7 linked regions of the Homo sapiens genome follow. The protein of the gene in region 5 interacts with the protein of the main gene of each other region in a biochemical or structural test. Each region holds a gene or a part of one and is shown on either strand. Other genes may lie near its edges.

Evidence for each region.
Region 1: the proteins of ZBTB16 (region 5) and HDAC7 form a complex in vitro, tested with the Homo sapiens proteins (one study listed by BioGRID).
Region 2: the proteins of ZBTB16 (region 5) and SUMO1 form a complex in vitro, tested with the Homo sapiens proteins (one study listed by BioGRID).
Region 3: the proteins of ZBTB16 (region 5) and SIN3B form a complex in vitro, tested with the Homo sapiens proteins (one study listed by BioGRID).
Region 4: the proteins of ZBTB16 (region 5) and RARA form a complex in vitro, tested with the Homo sapiens proteins (one study listed by BioGRID).
Region 6: the proteins of ZBTB16 (region 5) and HBEGF form a complex in vitro, tested with the Homo sapiens proteins (2 studies listed by BioGRID).
Region 7: of the proteins of ZBTB16 (region 5) and CASP3, one has a biochemical effect on the other in vitro, tested with the Homo sapiens proteins (one study listed by BioGRID).

Annotation. Positions count from the first base shown.
Region 1 is NC_000012.12:47,785,563-47,788,903, forward strand, and holds part of HDAC7 (histone deacetylase 7), read right to left. Parts: intron 2,603-3,341; coding exon 2,483-2,602; intron 2,248-2,482; coding exon 2,150-2,247; intron 1,142-2,149; coding exon 1,023-1,141; intron 324-1,022; coding exon 190-323; intron 1-189. UniProt on the Homo sapiens protein: Responsible for the deacetylation of lysine residues on the N-terminal part of the core histones (H2A, H2B, H3 and H4).
Region 2 is NC_000002.12:202,228,598-202,232,097, forward strand, and holds part of SUMO1 (small ubiquitin-related modifier 1 isoform a precursor), read right to left. Parts: intron 3,448-3,500; exon of another isoform or gene 3,051-3,447; intron 1-3,050. UniProt on the Homo sapiens protein: Ubiquitin-like protein that can be covalently attached to proteins as a monomer or a lysine-linked polymer.
Region 3 is NC_000019.10:16,870,898-16,874,397, reverse strand, and holds part of SIN3B (paired amphipathic helix protein Sin3b), read right to left. Parts: intron 3,170-3,500; coding exon 3,000-3,169; intron 1-2,999.
Region 4 is NC_000017.11:40,307,971-40,311,979, reverse strand, and holds the start of RARA (retinoic acid receptor alpha), read right to left. Parts: upstream 2,801-4,009; 5' UTR 2,694-2,800; intron 1-2,693. UniProt on the Homo sapiens protein: Receptor for retinoic acid. Retinoic acid receptors bind as heterodimers to their target response elements in response to their ligands, all-trans or 9-cis retinoic acid, and regulate gene expression in various biological processes.
Region 5 is NC_000011.10:114,248,211-114,251,710, reverse strand, and holds part of ZBTB16 (zinc finger and BTB domain-containing protein 16), read right to left. Parts: intron 1,386-3,500; coding exon 1,156-1,385; 3' UTR 1-1,155. UniProt on the Homo sapiens protein: Acts as a transcriptional repressor. Transcriptional repression may be mediated through recruitment of histone deacetylases to target promoters. May play a role in myeloid maturation and in the development and/or maintenance of other differentiated tissues.
Region 6 is NC_000005.10:140,336,604-140,340,103, reverse strand, and holds part of HBEGF (proheparin-binding EGF-like growth factor precursor), read left to right. Parts: intron 1-3,500. UniProt on the Homo sapiens protein: Growth factor that mediates its effects via EGFR, ERBB2 and ERBB4. Required for normal cardiac valve formation and normal heart function. Promotes smooth muscle cell proliferation. May be involved in macrophage-mediated cellular proliferation.
Region 7 is NC_000004.12:184,642,948-184,646,447, reverse strand, and holds part of CASP3 (caspase-3 isoform a preproprotein), read left to right. Parts: intron 1-1,725; exon of another isoform or gene 1,726-1,905; coding exon of another isoform or gene 1,906-1,917; intron 1,918-3,500. UniProt on the Homo sapiens protein: Thiol protease that acts as a major effector caspase involved in the execution phase of apoptosis. Following cleavage and activation by initiator caspases (CASP8, CASP9 and/or CASP10), mediates execution of apoptosis by catalyzing cleavage of many proteins.

The sequences.
Region 1 (3,341 bases), on a different chromosome or scaffold from region 5:
GCACACTCTACCTAGGCCAGGAGATGCTGCCTGGACCTAACTTGGAACAGAGGCTTCCGCTTCGCCTACCTTGTTTCAGGCTTGGCCACTCCCACCCTGTCCCATCCCATCTGCCTGCTCCTTGGGTAGTCCTGAGAGCCGGGCTTACCTGCCTGACAGAAGCATGGATGGGGGAGGGAGACGGCTCACCCTGTTACCCAGAAGAGCAGCCACACAGGCCTCAGAGGCGTCACAGATGGCTGTGAGGTCATGGCCACCCTCCAAGGCCAGCACCACTGCGCCTCCTGCCAGGTTCATCAGTTGCTGCGTCATGTATCCAAAACCTAGAGGTTGGGAGGGGAGAAATGGGAGGGGCGGGAGTGGAGAGGTGACCCTGTTCTCTACCCCTGTGGCTTCCCTGCTTGCTTCCTCCCTAATAAAGAATGACTCACATGTATCAATCACTATTTCCAAAGTGCTTTCACATTGAATGTCGTACAAAACCTACTAGTATGCTTCACTCAAGGCTCAGGGAGGTTAAGGGCCTTGGGAAAGGCCCCACAGCTAGTAAGTGGCAGCAAGGTAGGACCTGAACTTGGGTCATTGACTCTAGCCTGTGTCTTTTTCACTGAGCTACACCCTCTCTTCTTTCTGTACTCTGGGCCCTGTGGCCACCCTCTATTCTGAGAGTGCTGCTTCTCTCTCCCCTTCCTCTGGAGGAGCTGCCAGCCCACCTGGAATCAACCCAGCTGTGGTGGGGAGTCCCACGGCTGAGCTTCCTGCCTACTGGACTTAAGTCCCCATGGGTATGACCTGGTCAAGCCCTCCGTGGTGAACCGGCCTGGTCCTGAGAAAGGGCTTGGGCTGTGCTCGGCTAGGAGATCCCGGGGAATTTCAGGACCAGCTGCCATACTCCAGTCCTCAGGCTGAAAGCCCTGGGCTGGCCACTGCCACCTTCCCTTTCTGACTTGGGAGTGCCTCCCAACTCCCCGCACCGCCTGGCTCTCTGTCCCTAACGTCCCCCTCAGCTGAGGCTCCCTTACATTTGGCAGAAACATGGTAGCCACCCAGTGGGGCCGGGTGACCCTCAGCAGCATCAAATCCAGCAGACACCAGGACTAGGTCTGGAGAGAACTCTCGGGCGATGGGCATCACGACTATCCTGTGAGGTCACAAGAAGTGGCGATCATCGTACTGTGCAGGGTTGCCAGGGGCGGTCCTGCCAACTTTGCGGTGGGGCACCCTGTTCTTAGGACTCCAAGGCTCCCAGTGCCCCAGCACAACTGGCAGATTTCTCTGACCTCCTTGACCTTGGCTGGCCACCCATGTCCCTGGCACACACAGCCTAAGGACTCAGCCCCCTAGGGGACTTAACTAGCAAGAGGCAGAAAGGAGCCAAGGATGGAGCACCAGAGGGAATGAAAGAGGAGTGTGTGTGACCATGTGTGTGTGCATGTGTGTGTGTGCATGCAAGCATCTGTGGGGTGCAGTGGCCGGAGCCACAGGGAAAGGGTAATCTCACAGCCTTGCGGAGATGGACTCTGGTCACAAAGCTTCAGGGACTACAAGTGCTCAGTCCTTTGGACTGAGTTGACCACACCCAGCTACTCACTACTTGAGAGCTGAGTAGGGGACAACTAGGTCCTCTGAGGTTCTGCGCCACCTGGCTACATTCTCTCATCCTCTCCCTCTTCCAGGCCCCCCCCCAGCTGCCTTCCTCTACCCCTGATCCAACTCTGGGGCCTGCTTGGGTGTTCTTCATAGCCCTGGGCTCTGAGAAGACTCCAGGAACTCCAGCCCAGGGCTCTCGTAGAATTAGCTGTCATGGAGATAACTCCAGAAAAGTGTTTGAAGATCCATTTCCAGAATTCTCTTTTCCCAAATAGAGTGGCAGCCTTCTCTGACTAAATGTGCCAGCTCTGCTCACTCCACCACCCACCTGCCAGCAATCAGTTTGACATTGGCTCTCGGTAATGTATGCCTTTGCAAAGCACCCTTTGACTTTTGCATTCTTCTCTCTGTTTGTCCTATTCTCACTGGCGTTCACCTACAATGTCTAGGAACTGGTGGGGACAGGCTGACAATCCAACTGATCACCTCCCCCCTGGTGCTCTTGGGAGAAGGGACAGGAGAGGGTGGACTTGCCCCTCTGGGCCCCCAGAGCACGTACCTGAAAGCAGCCAGGTACTCAGGATCCCCCATGGGGGGGTCCAGACCTCCAGCCCAGGCCACATTGACATTGAAGCCCTCACCGCTGCCAGCCCCTACCTGGAAAACAGGAGGCAAGAGAGACATGAGGACAGCAGAGTCCCAGAAGGGGAACACCAGTTTGTTAGAGCTGCCAGCCCAGCTCATCCAGCCTCCCCATTTCCAGGTGGGGAAGTTTAGGATCAGAGAGGCTCAGCAGTCTGCCCAGGATCACACAGCTCGTCATGACAGAGGCAGAGTAAGTGTCAGGAGGAGGTCAATGAGGCTGGAAGATGTGGCCCTGACATGCGGTTACCTCATCCACAGCCCCACTCCCCGGGAAGAAGTTGCCGTCGTCATGGCGATGCAGGGAGATGTAGAGCACACTGGGGTCTTGGTAGAAGGTTTGCTGGGTGCCGTTGCCATGGTGCACGTCCTGTGTAGGGAGACGGGCAGCGATTAGGGAAGGCAGAGAGATGGGGGCCAGGACAGGTTAGAAGGGTTTCAAGGTCAGTGGCCATTCTGAGGTCAGGACCCTAGACTGGGATCAGGAACCTGGGGTTCCTAAAGCCACACGGTCGAGTGGCCCCACGTAATCCACTGCCCGGCTCTGAACCTCGGCCTCTCTGTGCTGGACAGGGCTGGCTGTAATATGAGATCCTGAAGGAGAGGAGGTGTCCCAATCTCAGGCCAGCCCACCTGAGAGAGTAACTGTGTGGACATGGGGTTAGTGGCAAGGAGAGGGAAGGGTTCAGGGTTACACATATCAGGAACCACTCTGTCTTGCATAAAGTCATGAAGTTATGAGGAGATCAGAAACCAAGCTCGGTTACAGAGGGGCAGGTACACGAGGCCCAGCCCCATCCCTCGTAGGGAGAGCTGGGCCCTACACTCGACTCACAGGACCATGCGGGAACTCAAGTGTGCAAAGGTCCTCCACCGCTCTCAACTTCTGCTTAGAAATGTCTCTTACACAGCTGTCAGTGCAGAAGGGACATAGCTTAGCAGTTAAACGCAAGCACTCTAGAGCTAACCCGCCTGGGTTCAAATCCATCTCATGACTTACGAATGACTGTGTGTGAGTTACTTAATCTCTCTGTGCTCACTTTCATCTGTAAAGTGGGTTATAGTCAGGATTAAATCCATCATGTGTAAAACCATCAGTGTCTGGATGT
Region 2 (3,500 bases), on a different chromosome or scaffold from region 5:
AAAAATACAAAAAATTAGCTGGGCGTGGTGGTGGGCGCCTGTAGTCCCAGCTACTTGGGAGGCTAAGGCAGGAGAATGGCGTGAACCCAGGAGGTGGAGCTTGCAGTGAGCCGAGATCACGCCAATGCATTCCAGCCTGGGCAACAGAGCAAGACTGTCTCGGAAAAAAAAAAAAAAAGTCACTCCAAGCTTCAAATTCTATATATATCAATTTATTTTATTTCCTAATGAAGAAAGCTCAAAAAGGGTTAAACAGGATAATTCTAATGCACCATTAAAAGGGAAAAACCGAGAATTACAGTGAAGTCACTTCCCTTATACTTAAATAATTTACCACAATTCCATTTTATTTATTTATTTATTTTGAGTCTCGCTGTGTCACCCAGGCTGGAGTGCAGTGGCACGATCTCGGCTCACTGCAAACTCCGCCTCCTCAGTGGCTGGGACTACAGGCGCACACCACCACACCCAGCTAAATTTTGTATTTTTTCATAGAGACAGGGTTTCACCATGTTGCCCAGGCTGGTCTCGAACTCTGGTGCTCAGGCAATCCGCCTGCCTCGGCCTCCCAAGTGCTGGGATTACAGGAGTAAGCCACTGCACTGGGCCCACGATTCTAAAAACACAAAAATATATGTATATTTTCATCTTCATGATGCATATGTTCAAACTTAGTAAGACGGTACTAGAGATTTAGAACAGAACTGACCAGATTTAACTGTATAACTTCAAGGTTTAGGTCAAAGCTGTCAACACAATGGGCCTCTGAATATTTACATTCAACCCTGAATGGTAGTTAAACACTAGTCATGCACAGATAGCTTCTCAGGAACTCAAAACTATAACTAAAAATTTTACTGGTTGTGTAAACCTTACCCTTTGAGTCTAGACCTATGCTAAGCCTAGAACAAACCAGTTTGATTGCATCCAAAAGTACTAGCAAACAGACTTGGAAGTATGACAGACATTGTTAATTACCTATCTGGTATCTATTTTCCCTTTCTTCCTTACAAAGGGAAACCTAAATTTACCCAGATAAAAAACGTATTTCCCAGCTTCTTTTATACCCATTTTGGCCAAAGAGATATAAAGTGAACATACTTTTTCCCTTTTCTCCTGTCTGGAACACAAAGTAGCTTTTTTGTGCCCACAAGTAGACAAGCACCAGAGTGAAAGACTGCTGTTAAGGATGGAGAAGAAAATAATATGAAGGAACTGTGGAGCTACCACATCAGCCTTGAGCTACTTTTGTCTACATTTCTTGTTTTATGAGAAAAAAAAAATTGTTTAACCTACAATAAATCAAACTTTCTGTTATTCAGCCCAAAAGTAATCCTGAAATAGAAGGTGCTATAAAAGGTATAAGTTTGGCTCATATTAAAAACAGGTGCTAGAAAATTCCTCAATGGGCATCAAAAGCAGAATGAATAAGTAAATTGAGTGTACTGCATTCCACACAATGGAAAGCCACACAGCAATGAGATGTAATAACATACAACTATATACAATAATAATGAACAAACCTCTAAACAGTGCCGGGCAAAAGAACCAACACACAGAGATACATACTGTATGATTTCACTTATAAAATGTTATGCTGTATAAAAACAGACAAAACTATTCTACTTGTTAAGTCAATACAGCAGTTCTTCATCTGAGTGCTGGTTGCATGGATGTGTTCAGTTTGTGAAAGTTCGGCAAACCAAACACTCTTGTGCACTTTTTTGTATGTATATTACTCTTTGGTAAAACCTTTAAAAATAACTGGCCCTAGATATTGAGAACAACCAGCCCAGCAAACAAAACTCCACCCTTCCTTCCTTCCTTCAGGTCTTTTCCTTCAGATCCTCATTAGCTCAGAAAAGGCAACTGAATGCAAAAATAGCCAAAAAATATAACCGATACAACGTATCTTTAAGTAAACATAGTCACGTTGCAGGAATTATCCAGATTTTAAACTGTAAAACTAAGGTGCTCAATAACAGTATCTGTGTGAACTTTTCCCCATGACTCTTTTAAAAAGAAACAGAATATCAGCCGGGATGGCGCAGTGGCTCATGCCTGTAATCCCAGCACTTTGGGAGGCCAAGGCAGTCAGATCACCTGAGGTCGGGAGTTCGAGACCGGCCTGACCAACATGGAGAAGCCCCATCTTTACTTAAAAAAAAAAAAAAAAAAAAAAATGAAATTAGCCGGGCGCAGTGGCTCACGCCTGTAATCCCAGCACTTTGGGAGGCCGAGGCAGGCGGATCACTAAGTCAGGAGATCAAGACCATCCTGGCTAACGCAGTGAAACCCCGTCTCTACTAAAAATAAAAAAACTTAGCCAGGCGTGGTGGTGCGTGCCTGTAATCCCAGCTACTCAGGAGGCTGAGGCAGGAGAAATGCTTGAACCCAGGAGGCAGAGGTTGCAGTGAGCAGAGATCACGCCATTGCGCTCCAGCTAGGACTCTGTCTCAAAAAAAAAAAAAAAATTAGCTGGGCATGGTGGCACATGCCTGTAATCCCAGCTACTCGGGAGGCTGTGGCAGGAGAATCGCTTGAACCCAGGCGGCAGAGGTTGTGGTGAGCCAAGATGGCGCCATCGCATTCCAACCTAGGCAACAAGAGCGAAACTGTCTCAAAAAAAATTAATTAATTAAATTAATTAAGTAGAATATCAGCATTATATATATATACTTTTTTAAATCACAACTTCAGGGAATTCCAAAATGGAATGCTAAAGATGTCTTAATAAAAAATTAACTGGGCCAGGCACCGTGGCTCATGCCTGTAATCCCTGCATTTTGCAAGGCCAAGGCAGGCGGATCACCTGAGGTCAAGAGTTCAGGACCAGCCTAGCCAACATGGTGAAATCCCATCTCTACAAAGATCAAAAATTAGTTGAGCATGATTGCAGGTGCCTGTAATCCCAGCTACTTGGGAGGCTGAGGAGGGAGACTCACTTGAACCTGGGAGGCGGAGGTTGCAGCGAGTCGAGATGGCACCACTGCACTCCAGACTGGGTGACAGAGCGAGACTCCGTCTCAAAAAAAAAAGATTATCGGCCTCTCTTCCTTTATCTGCCATCATGGTGTGTGCTTGACTCCACTTCTCGCCATGTCTTCTCACAAGACTTTCAGGGTTAAGTGATTCCTGGCCAAGAAACAAAAGCAAAATTGACCCATTCCCCAGTGGATTCGGATGAAAACTGGTAATAAAATCAGGTAAAACTCCAAAAGGAGCCATTGGAGAAGAACCAAGCTGGGTCTATAAGGCATTGCATGATACAACATACTTATGCTGTCTGAAGGTCACAATCATGTTACCATATCGAGCTGAAAATGTCACCACTATCTAGAGAGTTGGACATGTTTTATTGGGAATATATTTTTTTCTCTGAATCTGTTATGAACGTGTTGGTTGGCTAGGTTCAGTAATAAATATGTGAGACCTTTCATTTTTTAAAAAAAAAATCATCCTTAACAATCCCAGTGTCCTGGAAGAAGTAAATGATTCAA
Region 3 (3,500 bases), on a different chromosome or scaffold from region 5:
ACCAGACCAAACCAGACCAAACCAAAACCAAACCAGACCAGACCAGGCCAGACCAAAACTAGACCAGACCAGACCAGACCAAAACTAGACCAGACCAGACCTGAACAAAACAGACCAGGCCAGACCAGCAAACCCTGCCCGGGTGTGAGAAACACACAGAAAAGACACGGAAAAATATGTTCCAAAGCAAACCCAGGAATGAGCTGAAGGTGGCCTGAGTGCAGGCTGTTCCTTTCCCCTAAATGCTTGGCTGTAAATACACTGCTACTCCTTTTACCTTTGCACTGAAGAAGGAAGGAATGGAAACAGCAGGGATCGTGGGGCAGACAGGGCTGTGTGAATCACCCGCCTGCACAGCCCAGGCCCTGGTCAGGGGACCACACTCCTTGGGGGTTCCATGTGCAGCTTTGTTGAATGGATACAATAACACCTGGACACGCATAGGTTTCAGACAGTACCTGGCACACAGCAAGTGCCCACTGAATGCCAACTGCTACTGCTAAAAAACAGCAATGCTAATTTTTAAGAAAAAGGGAGGCAGAGTCCAGACATGGCCTCGAGGCAGGTTACAAACAGTGTGGAGGGGCCCGCAGTGAGCACCTGGCCCAGGGAGATGCAGCTGGGGTGTGGTGCAGCCACAGCTGGGACAGCAGGGCAGCATGTGGCTCTCACTACAGCTCCAGCCAGACAGCCCCATTTTCATTGCTTTGTTTTTAACAGGTTCTAGAGGAGTTGTTTATGGAAGGGGGGGATTTTTTTAAAGCATTAATCAATGCTTTCCATAAACCATCTGGTCCAATCTCCTGGTGTCACAAGCAAGGTTGCTGTCCCCGAAGCCATGGCCCATGAGGGGTGCCCAGCCTGGGGGGGGGGGGAGGGGACAGACTGCCAGCCCCCTGGCGTCCCCTGCGTCACTTCCCCAACACCATGTGCTGGGCCCTGGGTGTCCTCTCTCCAGGCTGCCCCGTGCGTGTTTCCCTCACCTGGGGAGTGGCCACTGCTGTGGATGGTGATGGGCAGGGACCCATTTCGGGCACACGGAGGGAAAGTGGAGGGGGCTGAAGCGAAGGTGTCAGAACGCAGCTATGGGTTTCACTAAGTCCTCATGGCCAGACACAGAAATCCTCCCAGTCACCAACAAGGCAGACGCAACGGAAACAGGCGCAAACACCGTGGATAGCTTTCCATGAGAAAAGATGTCCCAACGGCCATGAAAGGACAGGGCCCCAGCCACATTTGCCATCAGGGAAATGCAACGTGAGCCCACCGAGATTTGAACTCCCAGCTGATGGAGAGACGCCCCTGAGCCCCAGGGAGGACACAGAGTGCGGCCTCGCACAGCACTGGTACGAGTGACCCAGGAAACGGAAAGTTGCCATCAGCGGGACACACCTCTCTGTGCCTTACCCCAAGGGCAGCAGCAGAAATGTACATAGACGGCCACCGCAGACACACCCACGGGGCACCGCCCATGCCTGTCCTCAGGAGACAGGTGGACGGAATCGGGGGTCGTTCCTCGGAATCCTTGGCCGGTTCATCTCAACACAGGAATCTCACAGAATGACGCTCCCAGGATGCGGCTGGGCGCTGTGTGCTGCTGTTAACACACAGCTCGAGGCCAGGGATCTACCTCTCTGTAGAAATCAGGGTTGTGATGCCGGTGCGGTGGCTCACGCCTGTAATCCCAGCACTTTAGGAGGCCAAGGGAGGCGGATCACCTGAGGTCAGGAGTTCGAGACCAGCCTGCCCAACATGGTGAAACCCCCTCTCTACTAAAAATACAAAAATTAGCCAGGCGTGGTGGTGCGCACCTGTAATCTCAGCTACTCAGGAGGCTGAGGCAGGAGAATTGCTTGAAACCAGGAGGCAGAGGTTGCTGTGAGCAGAGATTGTGCCATTGTACTCCAGCCTGGGAGACAAGAGCAAAACTCTGTCTCAAAAAAAAAAAAAGAAGAAGAAGAAAAAGAAATCAGGGTTGTGGGTGTCCATGGGTGGCAGGTGGCTGGGTGGGGACACAGGGGCAGGGGTTCTGTTGATGAAAAGCCCATCCATCTGCCCCCTTCAAATTTGGGGACTTTTCTGCTTGGGTATTTTAGCTCCATTAAGCAGTCTTTAAAACCTGGAAGGAAACGTCCTGTCTGAAATGCTTCTCGTGGCTGTGTCTGGGTGGGAGAGTAATGGCATTATTTTTTTTCCAGCTTTTTTTCCACTTTATGATGAACAGCCTTACTTGGTGACCAGGAAATGGAGGTCACCATGAACAATGATTCTGGCAGAAACCAGGCAGGACCCATGTCCTGGAACCACACCCAGCTCGTCTGGGACGTCTGCTGTTTATATTTACGTGACCAGTTTCCTTGTGTTGACATTCAGTGGGGCCTGGGTTTTTGCTACTACTAAAACCAACGCAGATGAAATCACTATTCCCACCCTCCCTCAGGATAAGTGGGTTAAGGTTTTTTCCATGTTGTCAATTTAACCTCAAGAAAGGTTTGTCAACAGGGACACGGAACAAAAACTTGTACACAAATGTTCAGAGCAGCATTGCTCACAATCTCTATAAGGCAGCCACAGCCCAGATGTCCACCAAGAGATAGAAACAAAACGTAGCTACCCACGCAATGGAGTATTACAGAGCCATAAAAAGGAATGAAGCACGAGGGAAATACAGAGGCAGAAAGCAGTTGACTGGATGTCAGGGGCTCGGGGCAGGGGAATGGGCAGTGGCTGCTGATGGGGATGGGGTCTCCTTTTGGAAAGATGAAATGTTCTGGAACTAGACAGAGGTGGTGGTTGCACAATATTGTGAATGTACCAAATGTTACCAAACTGTACACTTCAAAATGGTTAATTTTACGTTATGCGAATTTTGTCTCAATTAAGAAAAAACAGGATAGGTTTGCTGTGCTGACCACGGGCCCCCTCCCGAGCGGGGAGTGAAATGATGGTAGAGCCATTTCCGCCGTCCTCAGGGCCGGCCCCACCCCGGCCCGGCTCACCTGCCGCGCAATGTTCTGCACCAGCTTGTCCATGGTGAAGCCCACGTAGGCATGGATGGTGAACATCTCGCGTAGGGTGTCCTCGTACTGCGTGGGGTCGATGCTGCCCTCCAGCAGGCTCCGCACCATGTCCAGGAAGGCCGGGTAGTACTCCTCCAGCTCCACTTCACCTGCGGAGACACACCGCCTCATCCATATGCCTCCTGGAGAGCGCAAAGTCACGCAGGCCAAACTCTGGCATGACAGAGCCCCAACAAATGCCCCCATGGGGCCCAACAGCCCTCACCTGCCACCCCTGGGGCAAATGTGGGAATCACCAGGAAACCCGAGTAGCTGGTGTTCACTGCCACCCTCCGAGGCTGCCTAATCTGGCCGGCAACCCAGGGATGGCAGCGAGAATGCTGTGGAGGCCAGGCATGGTGGCCCATGCCTGTAATCCCAGCACTTGGGGAGGCTGAGGCAGGCGGATCACCTGAGTTCAGGAGTTTGAGACCAGGTTGG
Region 4 (4,009 bases), on a different chromosome or scaffold from region 5:
AAAAATGAGAGCAGGAGATGTAGGCTTCTGTAAAGAGAGAAGCCTGGAGGCAAGAATAGGCCATGCCTGCCAGGCTGGGCATGTGCTGCCCCCAAGCTGAGTCAGAGGCTAGGAGGGAGAAGCTGGGGTGCTACAGTGCCAGAGGCTACTGTGCCCCCACCCCTGTCCCACCTGGGATTCCTGACACCTCCCAGCCCTAGGGGAAGGCCCTCCCCACAAAGGAGGAAGGAAACCAGCTAAGCGACTCTCTGGAGCCCTGCAGGGGAGCCCTGCACCACAGGCAGGGAAACCCAGGAGTCCTGGCGCCCAGCCCAGAGACAGTGAAATATCTTGGAGGGGAGGAAACAGCCCAGATTGAGGCAGACATGTGGCACCCCCAGAAGCTCCCAGATGTGACCTACTGGCCAAAGGGGCTAGATGAGGCAAAGTGAAACATTTCTGAACAAGAAGAGAGAAGAAAGTGGGGCTATGGGAATGGGGTGGCGGGGGTCAGCCTGGCTCATCGCTGTCCTTTCCTCCTTGTCAGAGTCAGTGACACTGACATTAAGGTCATCGAATATCAACCAGGTCCTGAGGACCTTGGTGTGTTTCCTCCTCTCCTAGTCTCCAGACCCCAGCCTGTTCATTCCTGAGCTTCCTCTGGCACCCCTTCCTTGGGGCCAAGCCAAGTAAGAAATCAGCAGGCCCAAGGTGGTGCTTGGGAGGCCGGGGCAGTGCCAGGGGCAGTCCTCATACCATCCTCCCACTGGCTTCCCTCCTGCCTGCTCTTAGCCGCCACACATATCTCAGCTGTCGAATCCGATTAGGGCTCCTGCCCAGTGAGCCAGACAAGGAGGCCACTGGGCAGGGGAGAGAGAGACAAGGACGCCAAGCAGGGATGGCAGAAGGAAGGTGGAGACATGGCTCAGGGGAGCAAGTATGGGGCCCCAGAGGAAGAAATGCCTGGTGGAGAGATCTGTACTCTGTGACCACAGGTGCTCTGGTAACAGCTACAACCTGCATTAGGGGAATTCTGCAGTAACCGGGGCAATAGCCCTGCCTAGTTCCTCCATCCCCCAGATGGGCAAAGGATGGGGGAAGAAAACTAAAGGCGGAGAGATTGACCTAGATTTAGGAAGAGGATTCCATCCTAGATTCCCCCAGCCATTACTACCGTTTGCAGTGAGCTTTACGATACATTGTCTCTGTGGTTTTAGTGGCAATGTCCCTGCTTGCTACTGATAGCCATTTTTACAAATGGAGAAACTAAGGCTTAGCAAAGGGGAAGACCTATATAAACACATATAGTTAAGTAACCAGTCTAAGTCTCCAGTTCAGGCCTCTGATTCCTAGTTCACTGCTCACAGTCAGAATCTCTACTTTCCTTGTTGGATCAAGACCAGAACGAAGTCTGAAGCCAATTCATTATCCACCCTGTCCTCTAAAACCAACCTTTAGGGGACCCGGGGAGCCATGGAAGAATGCAGAGCACACCCCACACCTAGACAGAGCTACCAGATGGGGACATGCCACCCATTCCTATCATACATTGATTGCTAGAGGAGTTCCCTCAGTGTGACCAGTCTCTTCTATCACCCCCCTCCCCAGTCTACTACCCCCAGAAGCAAGACACACACTCACACATGGTAAGTCAGACAAGGTGTACACCCTTCCTGTAAACCCACCAAACCAGAATGACACGCCCTAGATCTTCAGAGAGCAGGGCCTGTCTGCCCACCACAGGAGAGAAAAATAAGCCACTGTAAACAGTAGGTGCCATCTAGCCCTCTCCCAGAGAGCCTGTAGCGGGGCAGAAGCTTGGGGACCTTGTAGCTCTAGAGAAACACCAGGAGCCTGAGATTCTGAAAGCCAAGAAGCTCAGGGAGCTGGCAAGGCTGGGTGACCTCCTCAATCTGGTCCACACCCCCTTCCCTAGCCATCTGGACTGAGCCTGTTCTGGCCTGGGCCACACTCTGGTATCCCTCCCCTTCAATGCATGCAGCCACCTCTATCCAAAGCTTCTAGATCTTACAACCACATTGTCCCTACACACACACACACACAGGTGGGGTCGGGGGGCTTCTGCAGCAGGTGTTGAAATGTTGACATGGATGGGGGCTCTAAGCTGAAAGAACTTTCCTAGAGGAAAAGCTCACCAAAATGCTCACAACCTCCACTACCCTCTAGCAAAGCCTTTAGCCACCCAAGTGTGAGATGAACCTGGAAGGGGACATTAGTTCCCCTACAAGGTGTGTAGGGAGTAGGGGCAAAGTCCTGAGCTCTTTGGGTGAGGAAGCAAGAAAGAAATCCCTTGGGAAAGCTCAGGTCCCTCTCTGGCTCTCTCCTCTCTCTGTTACCTCAGCACTTGCCAATTCTCCAGTCTAGGTGAGGTGGGGGAAGGGGTATTAGGCAATACCGCAAAGGAGGGTGCAAGGGCGTGGGGCCTGGGCAGACCTTCCCCCTACTCCCCACTCTTATCTAGAGAACGGGAACTGCCTCAGGAGAAATGCAGGAAGGGTGCTGGAGGGTGCAGAGGGCTCTGAGCTTTCAGACACCCCACTGTTCCCAGGCTCCCACCTCCCAGGACTACAGTGAGCGACGGGAGAGGAGGGATGGGGAAAGCCAGAACTGGCGAGAAGGAAATGGCTAGATCAGAAGCAGAGGCCGGGGTCAAAGGCGGCCAAAGAATTGGGAAGGGGTGTGCATGGTCCTACCTGCTCAGGTGTGTGCTGGCAGGGGGCCGATGGGGTTCCCAGGAGAACCGGGGAAGCCCTCTCAGCTCGATTCAGGATTCCCCCCTGCTTCTGGGTTAGGCTGCTGCAAGAGGCACGGGTTCCCGTTGGGTCCTAAAGCCCACTCGCCAACTAGAAGGCTCTCCCCGCCCTCTTCCACCAGCCAGCCCCGACTGGGTCAGCGGGCGCAGAGCGAAGGACTGATGGGGGAGAAGTAACCCACTGGAAGAAAGATGGGCGTCTGGTCATCGGCTGGGGACAGGAACAGTTCCCTGTCTCAAATACACAGCATATGGATAACTCGAGGATAGGATGACCTGAAACAGGAGAAAATAGACATTTCTTCCTGCCTGCCCTGAGCAGATGGATTTAGGTTTTGGTGCTGGAGGTGGGGTTAAGATCTCTTTCCCTGCCACTCCTGCTAAGGCATTCAGCTAGAGATTTTGGAAAGGGAGCATTCATTTTGGTTGGGCGCTCACTTCTGTCCTCTTCCTCATGGACTGCAGGAGTCCCTTCATCCCTCCCAATTATTCCCAAGGACCTAGGAGGCCATAGAGGGTGAAAAAAGATTTTCAGCATGTAAAAAGTGCAGGCTCACTTAGATGGCAGCTGGAAACAGGGGAAACATGTAGGACCAATGTATGTGTATCTGGGAATGTGTGGGGTCTGCAAATACACATATATAGGCAAGAGTATAAACAGGTGGGGTTAGGGAAGGAGAAAAAAACAAAAAAGAACTTTGGGTTACACCTATTACTGGAAATGGTAATTGTCAGTGGAAGAACAGGACGTAGAACCTAGAGGTCAACTAGTGCCCCTACCCAGCCCTCAGTAATGTCCCGAATCTTTATGACCAGAATAAACAAGTTAAAGAGAGAATATTTTCCTAGATACCATTTAGGATAAATATAGGGGCAGAGGGACCTCAATACAACAGATCAACTTCAAGGTCACTGATTCAGTTTAGTATAGCCAGTCTTCTCAGTAGCTCAAAAGGGAGAATTCAGGTTTGGTGGGCTAGATGGGCAAGAGAAAGCTGGATAAGAATTCTGAAGTTGTGGATTGAGAACATTTTGCAAGGAGAGTTGCACATATCTCTAGCAGCAGAGCAGGGAAAACGTCATGAGGGGAAGGGCCAGAGGAAGTCAGCGACAGACTTGAGGGGAGAGGGCATGGCCTCTCCCTAGAAGGGGAGAAGACACCAGCAATGCCTCCACCTCTGTCTTGCAGGAAGAACTGAGTAAAGGAGCTGGACTAAGGATGGAAGGCCCCAGGGTGGAGTCCATGGGGTGAGTTTA
Region 5 (3,500 bases):
AATTCTGTGCGACTCTCTCTGGACCTGGCTTTTCTTGCTGAGCTCACTACATCTGGGGTCCCCAGTGTGACTCAACAACTTTCTCCCTTGCCCAGCTTCCCTCATCCCACGGGCTGGGTGTCCTCTTTTCCAGGTGTGGGACCCCTCTAGAGAAAGACATCCACAACCTACCCTCGGAACCTCAGCCCATTCATGGATTCCTTCTCCTGGGACTGAAGTAGGGCTACGTAGGGACTGTGGTTTGTTTGGTAGGATATTAGGTATTTAGTTGTGATGCTTTTCCATTTTGGAAGCAGCGCAGCAGGAATCTTGCTCACGATGGTGCTGGACTAGGGTGGGGTATTGGATTTGTTTTGTGTTCTCAGAAGGCTGAGGGTAGGAGGGACCCTGAAGTCAGAGGCAGCTATCCCACTAGGGAACCGGAGAAGGATGGAGACACCGCCAGGTCCCTGAGGGGCTGGGACTCCCCTGGGACTTGGAGGACAGGAGTCAAGGGGAGGCTGGGAACAAAGAGCTGGAGGAGGGGCAGGGGTCCTGAGGCTCTCAGAGACCACCGGGGGACACCCAGATGTGGCAAAGCAGAGGAAAGCAGCAGGTGGGCTGAGTGGTGGGAAGAGAAACAGAGCCCTTCTCCTCCCCAGTCAGCCGCCAGCAAACTAGAGCTGCCATTTTGAGCAGCTAGTGACCCAGCCCAGACCCATCAGCAGGGGAGCGCCCTTCTGGCTCACCTCCTCCCTCCCTTCATCTCCTGGGGGTCTTGGTGGAGGAAGGCCGGCACAGACCGTGTGGCTCTGACCAGAGGACCTCTCACCTGCTTTCTAGCCTCCATTTCTGGACACATAAAAGAAGGTCTGGGTGAAGGAAGGAGAAAAATGTGCCACCATTTGAGTGAACAAAATACCCAACCCCATCCCAGAAAATCAGGCAAACCTCCAGCCGGGAGAGGAGGGTGGAGGCCCCCAGAGGAGGGGCAGTGGCTTGGCATCCAGGTCATCTGGAGCCCAGAGAGAATCCAAGGCCAAAAAGCTACCAGGTTTCCTTTTCCTTCTGTTTTTTTTTTTCTTTTCCTTTTTTATTTGTCATAGTCCTTCCTTCATCTCACTCCAACTCTTCTTTCCTGGCTCCCCGCTCGGCTCCACCGCCGCGGGCCTCCCTTCACACATAGCACAGGTAGAGGTACGTCTTCTCTATCCTCCAGTCGGGCGGGATCTCCTCGGGCTTGTGGCCCTTCATGTGCTTCTGCATGGAGGAGAGGCTGGGGCAGTACTCTGTGCAGATGGTGCACTGGTAGGGCGAGGCGCCGTTGTGCGTTCTCAGGTGCTTGATCATGGCCGAGTAGTCCCGGGAGCGCTGGTGGCAGAGCTTACACTCAAAGGGCTTCTCACCTGAGGGCGGAGGGACAGGGCAGGAGAAAGTGAGGACAGACAGAAGGCGGTGAGGGCACCATGTCACCCTCAGGCGTGCCAGGGAAGCTGGGTTCCTCCAGCTGGGCTTGCTCCAACAGAACTTTCTGGGACAATGAAGGCACCACCCAAGACGGCAGCCACCAGTCACACATGGCTATGAATGAGGCTGGTGCGACTGCAGCTCTACAGTTTTCTAATTTTATTTCATTGTAACTAATTTAAATAGCTACATGTAGCTAGTTGACTACTGGATTGCCCAGCTCCTTGTCTTACTATTCTTAACTCTCCCAAGGCCACAGTCTTTTCCCTTTCTAATTAAGAAAATGGGTGTCTAGAAAGAGAAAGGCCCCAAAGTCCTCAGGAATGGCTCTTCAAGCCACAGTTCCGTCCAGAGAGCAGGTGGATCGAGACCTTTCAGGGCTACAGATGGTGGGGAGCAGGGGTGGGGGGAAATTGAGGGAACCCAGTCCTTCAAATATGCTGCACCTGGGGACACCTATCCTGCTAAAGCTCTCTTTTTTTTTTTTTTTTTTGAGACGGAGTCTCGCTGTGTCGCCCAGGCCAGACTGCGGACTGCAGTGGCGCAATCTCGGCTCACTGCAAGCTCCGCTTCCCGGGTTCACGCCATTCTCCTGCCTCAGCCTCCCGAGTAGCTGGGACTACAGGCGCCTGCCACCGCGCCCGGCTAATTTTTTGTATTTTTAGTAGAGACGGGGTTTCACCTTGTTAGCCAGGATGGTCTCGATCTCCTGACCTCAAGATCCACCCGCCTCGGCCTCCCAAAGTGCTGGGATTACAGGCGTGAGCCACCGCGCCCGGCCTTTTTTTTTTTTTTTTTTTTTTTTTTGAGATGGAGTCTCACTCTGTTACCCAGGCTGGAATGCAGTGGTGCAATCTCAGCTCACTGCAACCTCTGCCTCCCGGGTTCAAGTGATTGTCCTGCCTCAGCCTCCCAAGTAGCTGGGATCACAGGTGCCGCCACCATGCCCGGCTAATTTTTGTATTTTTAGTACAGACAGGGTTTCACCATGTTGGCCGGGCTGGACTTGAACTCCTGACTTCAAGTGATCTGCCTGCCTCGGCCTCCCAAAGTCCTGGGATTATAGGCATGAGCTCCCCCACCCGGCCTATCCTGCTAAAACCGCTAAGACCTTGCCCTGGACCCTGCCTCCCTCCTGAGGCTGGAATTGGGGGTGGGGTGGGATGGGAGGGATAAAGAACCTGGGAGTGCACAGCCACACCCTAGCGTTCTATACCCCAACTTTCCTTCCATAGAGTCCCCTAGAGCTGAGCAGAGGATGTAAGGGAACCTTGTTTCAATACAGTAATTAACTGGCCAGCCATCTCGCTATCAATACTCCCCCGCGCACAGGCCCCAGCAAATAATGAAGTAATGAACAGCCAAAGTGATCTAACTATCGACCAGCTATTTACAATAGTCACTGCCAATACAGTTAATGATCCACCTGCCAGGTCACATCCCTGACAAGGGGCTAAGGAAACCCCAGGGCTCTGGGAAATCCTCTGGGCCACTATAGTTGTCATCAACGGACACCCAACCCTCTCCTTGTGGGCTCAAACTGGGACACGAAAAACGAGCTCTGACAACACATAGCTCTGCTTACTGCTCCTTCTGTCCACCCTTCCCCTCCAAGGGCAACGTACTCTCCTCTAAGCCAGCAGGACCTGCCTGAAGCCACCTCTCCCCCTTCCTCTGGACAGGACAGCTGTCTCCCCTGATCAGAGGGGGCGTCTTTGTTTTCCAGCTTCCACCACCTCTCACCCTTCTGTAAATCAACCTTCCCCACAACCAGCAGTGTGCTGGTGGTAAATGTTTCATGACTGGCTTTCCAAAAAGCCCTGGTTTGTAGCATCTGCTGATTGCTATGATGTGAATACTCCTACAGTGGCCAATTTTAAGCAACTAAGGTGGTGTCACTGAACTTGAAGTTGTGAAGAAATGTGAAAAATTAGCTTTCACAAGCAAGCTCCAGGACTTCACTGCCCCCAACTTGGGAAACTGTGGAAGACCCTTCACTTGTTTTGTCTTTTGACCTCAGGGAAAACAGTGGCCCACATTTCTTTTTCCAATAC
Region 6 (3,500 bases), on a different chromosome or scaffold from region 5:
TGTTGGCCAGGCTGGTCTTGAACTCCTAACCTCAAGTAATCAGCCTGCCTTGGACTCCCAAAGTGCTGGGATTACAGGCGTGGGCCACCACTTCCTGGGCAGATTTTCAGGGGGTTGATTGCATGTCTGGACTGGCCCCCTACTGCCTCCTGCCCTTGCTACTCAGGGCAGAAAGCAGCAAGAAGACAGAAATCCTGGTTTGGGGGAATGTGACATCTGTGCACGTTCATCTGGGGATCTTTGTGGCTCTTGTTTGACTCCAGACCCAGGAACCACTAGCCAGGGTGTGTCCAGGCTGCTGTGGTGAGCCTGAGGCTAGCTGGCTTCCTAAACTAGCCCTCTGCAGCCACCATGAACAGGAAAACCCTTTTTGTGTCACCAGCCAAAAGTTGCCCTCAAAGAGTAGTTTCTGCTGGGCACAGTGGCTCACACCTGTAATCACAGCACTTTGGGAGGCCGAGGCACGTGGGTCGCCTGAGGTCAGGAGTTCGAGACCAGCCTGGCCAACATAGAGAAACCCCCGTCTCTACTAAAAATACAAAAATTAGCTGGGTGTTGTGGCGGGCGCCTGTAATCTCAGCTACTAGAGAGGCTGAGGCAGGAGAATCTCTCAAACCCAGGAGGCAGAACTTGCAGTGAGCCGAGATAGTGCCATTGCACTCCAGCCTAGGCAACAAGAGCAAAACTCCATCTCAAAAAAATAATAATAATAAATAAATAAAAGAGTAGTTTCCTGGGATTCCTGACTAGTTGCCTACCCAGAAATTGGCTGCAGAGTTTCCTGTGGCTGGAGGAAAACTGGGGACACTTGGGCTGAGGAGGACTCAGAGCTGGAGGAGAGACAGGCTAGGGGGCTCTACTTGGCCTCACTGCCCAGGTGCTAAGAAGGAATGGTGATCCCGCTTCTCTTGTCTCCATCTGACTTGGGTGCCCCATTCCTCAGGCCATGGGCAGTAACCTCTGGAGTCTGATTATGTAATAACTCACACAATGTGGGACTTGGCCTTTATAAAGCCCTTTCATTTGTATTACCTCATTTTATCTTTTCACAATACTCTAGTGAAGTAGGCATTTCTTATCCCTGTGTTTTACATGAGGAAACCAATGTTTAGAAAGGTAACGTGACTTGCCCAAAATTACCTGGCTAGAAATAGCAGCAGAACCAGTCTGGAACTCATGCACTCAGTCTCCTCCATCCAGACGTGTCCCCTCCACCTCCTGGGGTAAAGGTGGAGAAATCCAGTTTGGAAGATGTCTCTGGACCCTAGAGGGTTCTTGCATCTGTTGTAATACAAGTTCTGAAATGGGTCACAGACGTGGGTGGGAAGAATGTGTCCTAGTCTGGTGGGTGGCTGGCTCTGGACAAGACACAAAATTTTGCCCCTACCCTGGGATGCTTGGAATGTACTCATCCCCCCTCCTTCTCTGGGGAAGCCAGGAGTTGTCTGCAAAGGGAGGGGGAGGTAGGTAATATTAGGATGTTTACATTATTATCCTTTTGACTCAGGGTGGGGGTGGAGGGATTATGTAACTGAATTGCGGGACTCTGAGGCCAAACTTTATTTCTATCTTCTGAGTAACTACCTGTGGAGTTTGAATGATGGACTGGAAGTGAAAAACAGACTCAACTTCAGCTTCCCTCCTCCCAGGAAAGCAAAGTCTCTGAAGTCATCCAGACTGCTGTTGAATCCTGGCTCTACGACTCACTAGCTTTGTAACCTTGGGCGAGGTGTTTAACAAAAGCTAAGCCTCAGTCCATCTTTAAAATGGGGCTAGTAACTTCTCCTTCACAGAGCTGGCTTTAAATGAAATAATTCTTGTAAAGCAGTTAGCACAAAGTACTTGGCTCATGGTAAGCCTTCAATGATTGCTAATTATTATTCTTTATTATTCAAGTTATGAGTAATAAATAATAATAACATAGTCAGAGAGAAGGGTCAGACTGCCCCCCAGGAGCCTATCAGATATGCTTCCTTGGAGTTACCTGCGCTATCCTGCATTGTTCAAAGTGGAAGGAATGATGAATTTGGAATCTGCCAAGACTTGTTCCTAGTCTTAGCCCTGCTGCTTCCTAGTTGTGCCACTTTTGGTGAATCACTTAATTTCTCTGACCCTTAATCTTAGCTTTTCCATCTGTAATATGGGGTTGTACCTGCCTACCAGAATGTTAGGAGGCTCAGTTGAGCTAGTAGATAAGGCTAGTGGCTTGTGAATGGTAAACTGCTGTGCACAAGTGATTTTCCAGGGGTGCTTGTGCAAGTGTCCTCTATGTCCTGGCAGGATAGGGGTCGCTTTTAGGCCTACATGGGCTGATGGGACAGATACATGGAGAGGCTGGGCAAGGAACTGTGGACTGTGCTATACGTATAGTGGGCCTGACCTACATTTATCCTGCTGTGAGGTGGTTTCTCGAAGTACCCAGGAGGAACTAGGGCAGGGAGAGGCTCAGGGCAGGAAAGCAAGAATGCAGTACCACCCAGCCTGGCCCCTCTGCCACTGCTGGTTGTGGACAAGTCTGTCTCTTGGAGCTTCCCTGGTGCTCTGTCCGCAGGAAGAAGGGATTCCTTGTTCTGAGGTACCAGAGAAAGCACCTCCTTCCCAGAGAAAGCACAGCTCAGAAAAGAGGGCCACCAGGTTCTTGGTGCTTCCTTCAGCAGCTGGTGGTCTAAAGTCCTCAGGCAGACAGTGCCACTGTGCCCCCTGGCTGGATGGTAGGCAGTTGTCAGGTGTGAGTGGGCAGCACACTGAGCTCAGAGTCAGACAATCTACATCTACATCTTCATTTCTGTCTTACTGTGTGACCTTGGGAAAACCACTCCACCTTTCTGTAAAACAGGGCTCCTACTTATATCAAAGGATCTCTGGGATGCTCAGATAAAGGAAAGGATGTGAATGTGCTTCTTCAACTGTAAGCACGTCTGAGTCTTTCTAAGAGCTTCAAGGAAATGCTTTGTGTTAGAAAAGGCAGTTGCCAGCCCGGTGTGGTGGCTCATGCCTGTAATCCTTGCACATTGGGAGGCAGAGGCGGGTGGATCACCTGAGGTCAGGAGTTTGAGACCAGCCTAGTTAACATGGTGAAACTCCGTCTCTTCTAAAAAATTACAAAAATTAGCTGGGCGTGGTGGCGGGCACCTGTAATCCCAGCTACTTGGGAGGCTGGGGCAGGAGAATCACTTGAATCCGGAGGTAGGGGTTGCAGTGAGCCAAGATTGCGCCACTGCACTCCAGCCTGGGAGACAGAGCAAGACTCTGTCTCAAAAAAAAAAAAAAAAAAAGAAAAAGAAAAAGAAAAGGCAGTTGCCATGTGATTTATTTCTTGAGTGAGAAGAGCCAAGGGATTGTTTCTGACAGTCTTCCATGCTCTGGCAGGGCAGCTGGGCAGAAAGATGTTTCTTGATTTGTTTGGTTTGTCCTGTGATGAAAGAGGCCTGGTAGCTCAGCGTGCAGAGGCCAAAGGCCAGAGTTGAGCTCCCAAGTTGGGCCCTGCACCCAGGGGGAGC
Region 7 (3,500 bases), on a different chromosome or scaffold from region 5:
TAGTGGAGAGTGCTCTGTACTGTCTTCCTGGTCACGTGGCCCTTGCCAGAGGAAAGGAAAGGATGGTTTGTTTGTATAGTACAATGGAACTTATTTCAATGTATTCTGTATTTGATTTTACATTCCTGTTCTCATATTTTTACCTTAATTACATAACAAATATTAAAAGATTGACTTCACCAGGCCCAGTTACAATCGCCAGTTTGATAATTCTTATACGTACTCAAATGAATTCAGAGACCAGATGGGAAAAGATTTTGATAAAACCTCTGGTACATCACAACTGAAGTCTTTTCTTGTCCAAACTATTGTGAAACAGATGTTCTTTCTGTTTCATTTGCTAAATCTGGAAACGTGACTGCTTTTGAGACTTTGTCCTCTCTGACAGGTAATAAATATAATCCTGATATTTTTCAAGTTGTTTGACAGAAGTGTAATCTCCCCAGAAGTCCTGCTGGACAGGCTTCACTTTTCCTTTGGAGGAACACAGAGATACAGGGAATATGTTTTAATGACATATACCTAACGCTGAACATGAAACCAGTTATTTTACTTTTATTATTATTATTTTTAGAAACAGCCTTGCTGTGTCACCCAAGCTCAAGTGCAGTGGTGCGATCATAGCTCACTGCAGCCTCCAATTCCTATGCTCAAGTAATCCTCTTGCCTCAGCCTCCTGAGTAGCTGGGACTACAGGTGTGTGCCACCATGCCAGGCTACTTGTTTTTACTTTGTTATAGAGATGGGGTCTCTCTGTGTTGCCCAGACTGGTCTTGAACACATGATCTCAACCATTCCTCCCACCTTGGCCTCCCAAAGTGCTGGGATTACAGGCGCGAGCCACTGTGTCTGGCCTATTTCACTTTAGAAGTAAATTGAATGCCACATGCGAAGTTTGTTAAATTTTTTTAAAAAAGGAAAGAAAACACAAAAGTAAACTACCTAGTCGCATCAGAAATGCCATAGTCATTTTTGCCATTTTTTCATTCATTAGAATTCAGTGCATTATGTTATTTTGTTATCTCTGCAGTAACTTTCTATCATGTTATTTATTTTCTTTGTCTTATTTAAAGCTTCTGAGATTATGGATTTTTGTTTCCTTCCCTGAAGTTAAGTGTTATCATTCCTATATAGTACTAAGCTGTCTACAGAATAGTGGGAGTCTGCCCTCTTGAGTTGGGAAGATCCTAGTTTGAATCTTGGCTGTGCGACTTTAAAGTTCATTAACTTCTCTTAGCCTCAGTCACCTGAACTCTGCAGTGGGGATCCTTATGCCTCAGAGTGTCATTGGGAGGACTCACGAAAATACGCTTGTACTTTGAGTTCAGTACCTAGCCTGTATGAGCCAGCATTAAGAGGGACAGTCATCACGCAGCGCTTTGCACACAGCTCTCACGCCACATCCTTTGGCTACTGTTTTGGTAAATCTTTACTAGTAAATGTTTCTTAAAAGCATTTACATTCATGGACATGATTCAGAAACTAACAGTTGTTTTTTAGGTCTCACTTTGAGATTTAAAAACCCTTAGGGCAGAGACCAGATTTTATTTCTTACCTCAGAGTTTCCCTGTAGGACAGGAACCAGCAACAGCCTAATGAGCTGATTAAGAATTTTAGAGATTTAAAATTTAAATTAGGATTGCCAGTTTTAGAGACTGGCACATAAATGTTTTCATTTAAGGCAGTGACTGTTTCCTTTAGGATATGATTTTTTATCTTTCTAAGATGAGATCACCATCCTCAGAATAATTTGTACCCCGCTGGGCACTAGCTAATGGAGGTGATGTCATGCTAAGCAGCACTTCAGTGAGTTTTGCGGGAACCAAAGCTCTGCTCCCAGGAGTGTGGATTTGGTGCTTTCATGTGGAAAAAGCGGATGATGACAAGTAGAGAGCAAATGTGCGCATGTCTGATGCTGTAAGGATTTCCTTTACCATCATATAAATTTTTAAAGTATATCAAAATAAACTGATAACTGAGAAAATATATGTTGTTCAGATACTAATAATGAAGTTAATGAAGTCCACTATAGTATTTGTCCCTGAGAAATCTTTATCAAATATTTTAAATCCTATTGTAAAATAATGTATTTTTTCTTTCAGTTTTAGAGACTGGCAATCCTAATTTAACATCTCCTTTTGAATTCCCCACCACAGGCACACTTTCACACATTCACTCTTTAATAACAGGTTGTTTCAAATTGTTAATACTTTATAGCTTAATATAGAAATTTCACTTTAGAAATTAATTTTTATTTCTCTGCCTTAATGCTATAGATGTTGTAGTCTGCTTTACTTCAGTATTGTAATGAGTAGTTGGCTAACCACCATGTAAATAGGGAGAACATTCTAGTTTTTTACTTGTGTAGGAAAACACAGCTTGAAATGTCTAAGTATCTATTTTAGAGTGAAGTAAATTTATACTGACAATATTTTTTTGTGTTTGAAGACCTGACTGTTACAGCGTTGGTGGCAAGTGTTAAGGGATCCAGGAACTAGACAAGTGATTCTGAGACCTGAGTTCCAGGTTTCTAAGTAATATCAGTTGGTCTACTGAGAACTTTGCCATAAACATATGTGTTCAGAAATTTCCTTTCTTAGCAGCAGCATCCTGAATTGAACAGAATTACACACACATCAGCCCAGTAAGAAACAATTCATGTTAAGTCCATTGCTATGCCAGGATAAATCTTTTAAATCACAATTATTTTTCCTATTTATATTTTGTCAAATAAGAATGTTCTAAAAACCAAAATTTCTGTTTTCTTTTTTTTTTTTTTTTTTTTTTGAGACGGAGTCTCACTCTGTCGCCCAGGCTGGAGTGCAGTGGCGCGATCTCGGCTCACGGCAAGCTCCACCTCCCGGGTTCACGCCATTCTCCTGCCTCAGCCTCCTGAGTAGCTGGGACTACAGGCACCCACCACCACGCCTGGCTAATTTTTTATATTTTTAGTAGAGACGGGGTTTCACCGTGTTAGCCAGGATGGTCTTGATCTCCCGAACTTGTGATCCGCCCGCCTCGGCCTCCCAAAGTGCTGGGATTACAGGCAAAATTTCTGTTTTCATTTAAGGCAGTGACTATTTCCCTTAGGATGTGATTTTTTTATCCTTCTAAGATGAGATCACCATCCTCAGAATAATTTGTACCCTGCTGGGCACTAGCTAATGGAGGTGATGTCATGCTAAGCAGCACTTCAGTGAGTTTTGCGGGAACCAAAGCTCTGCTCCCAGGAGTGTGGATTTGGTGCTTTCATGTGGAAAAAGCGGATGATGACAAGTAGAGAGCAAATGTGCGCATGTCTGATGCTGTAAGGATTTCATCTACCATCATATAAATTTTTAGAAGTATATCAAAATAAACTGATAACTGAGGCAATGTATGTTGTTCAGATACTAATAATGAAGTTAATGAAGTCCACTATAGTATTTGTATAGTATTTGTATATTACAGTACTCTGAAAAGCTGGTCACTATTTAAAGTTTCCATTACCAGTCACAAGG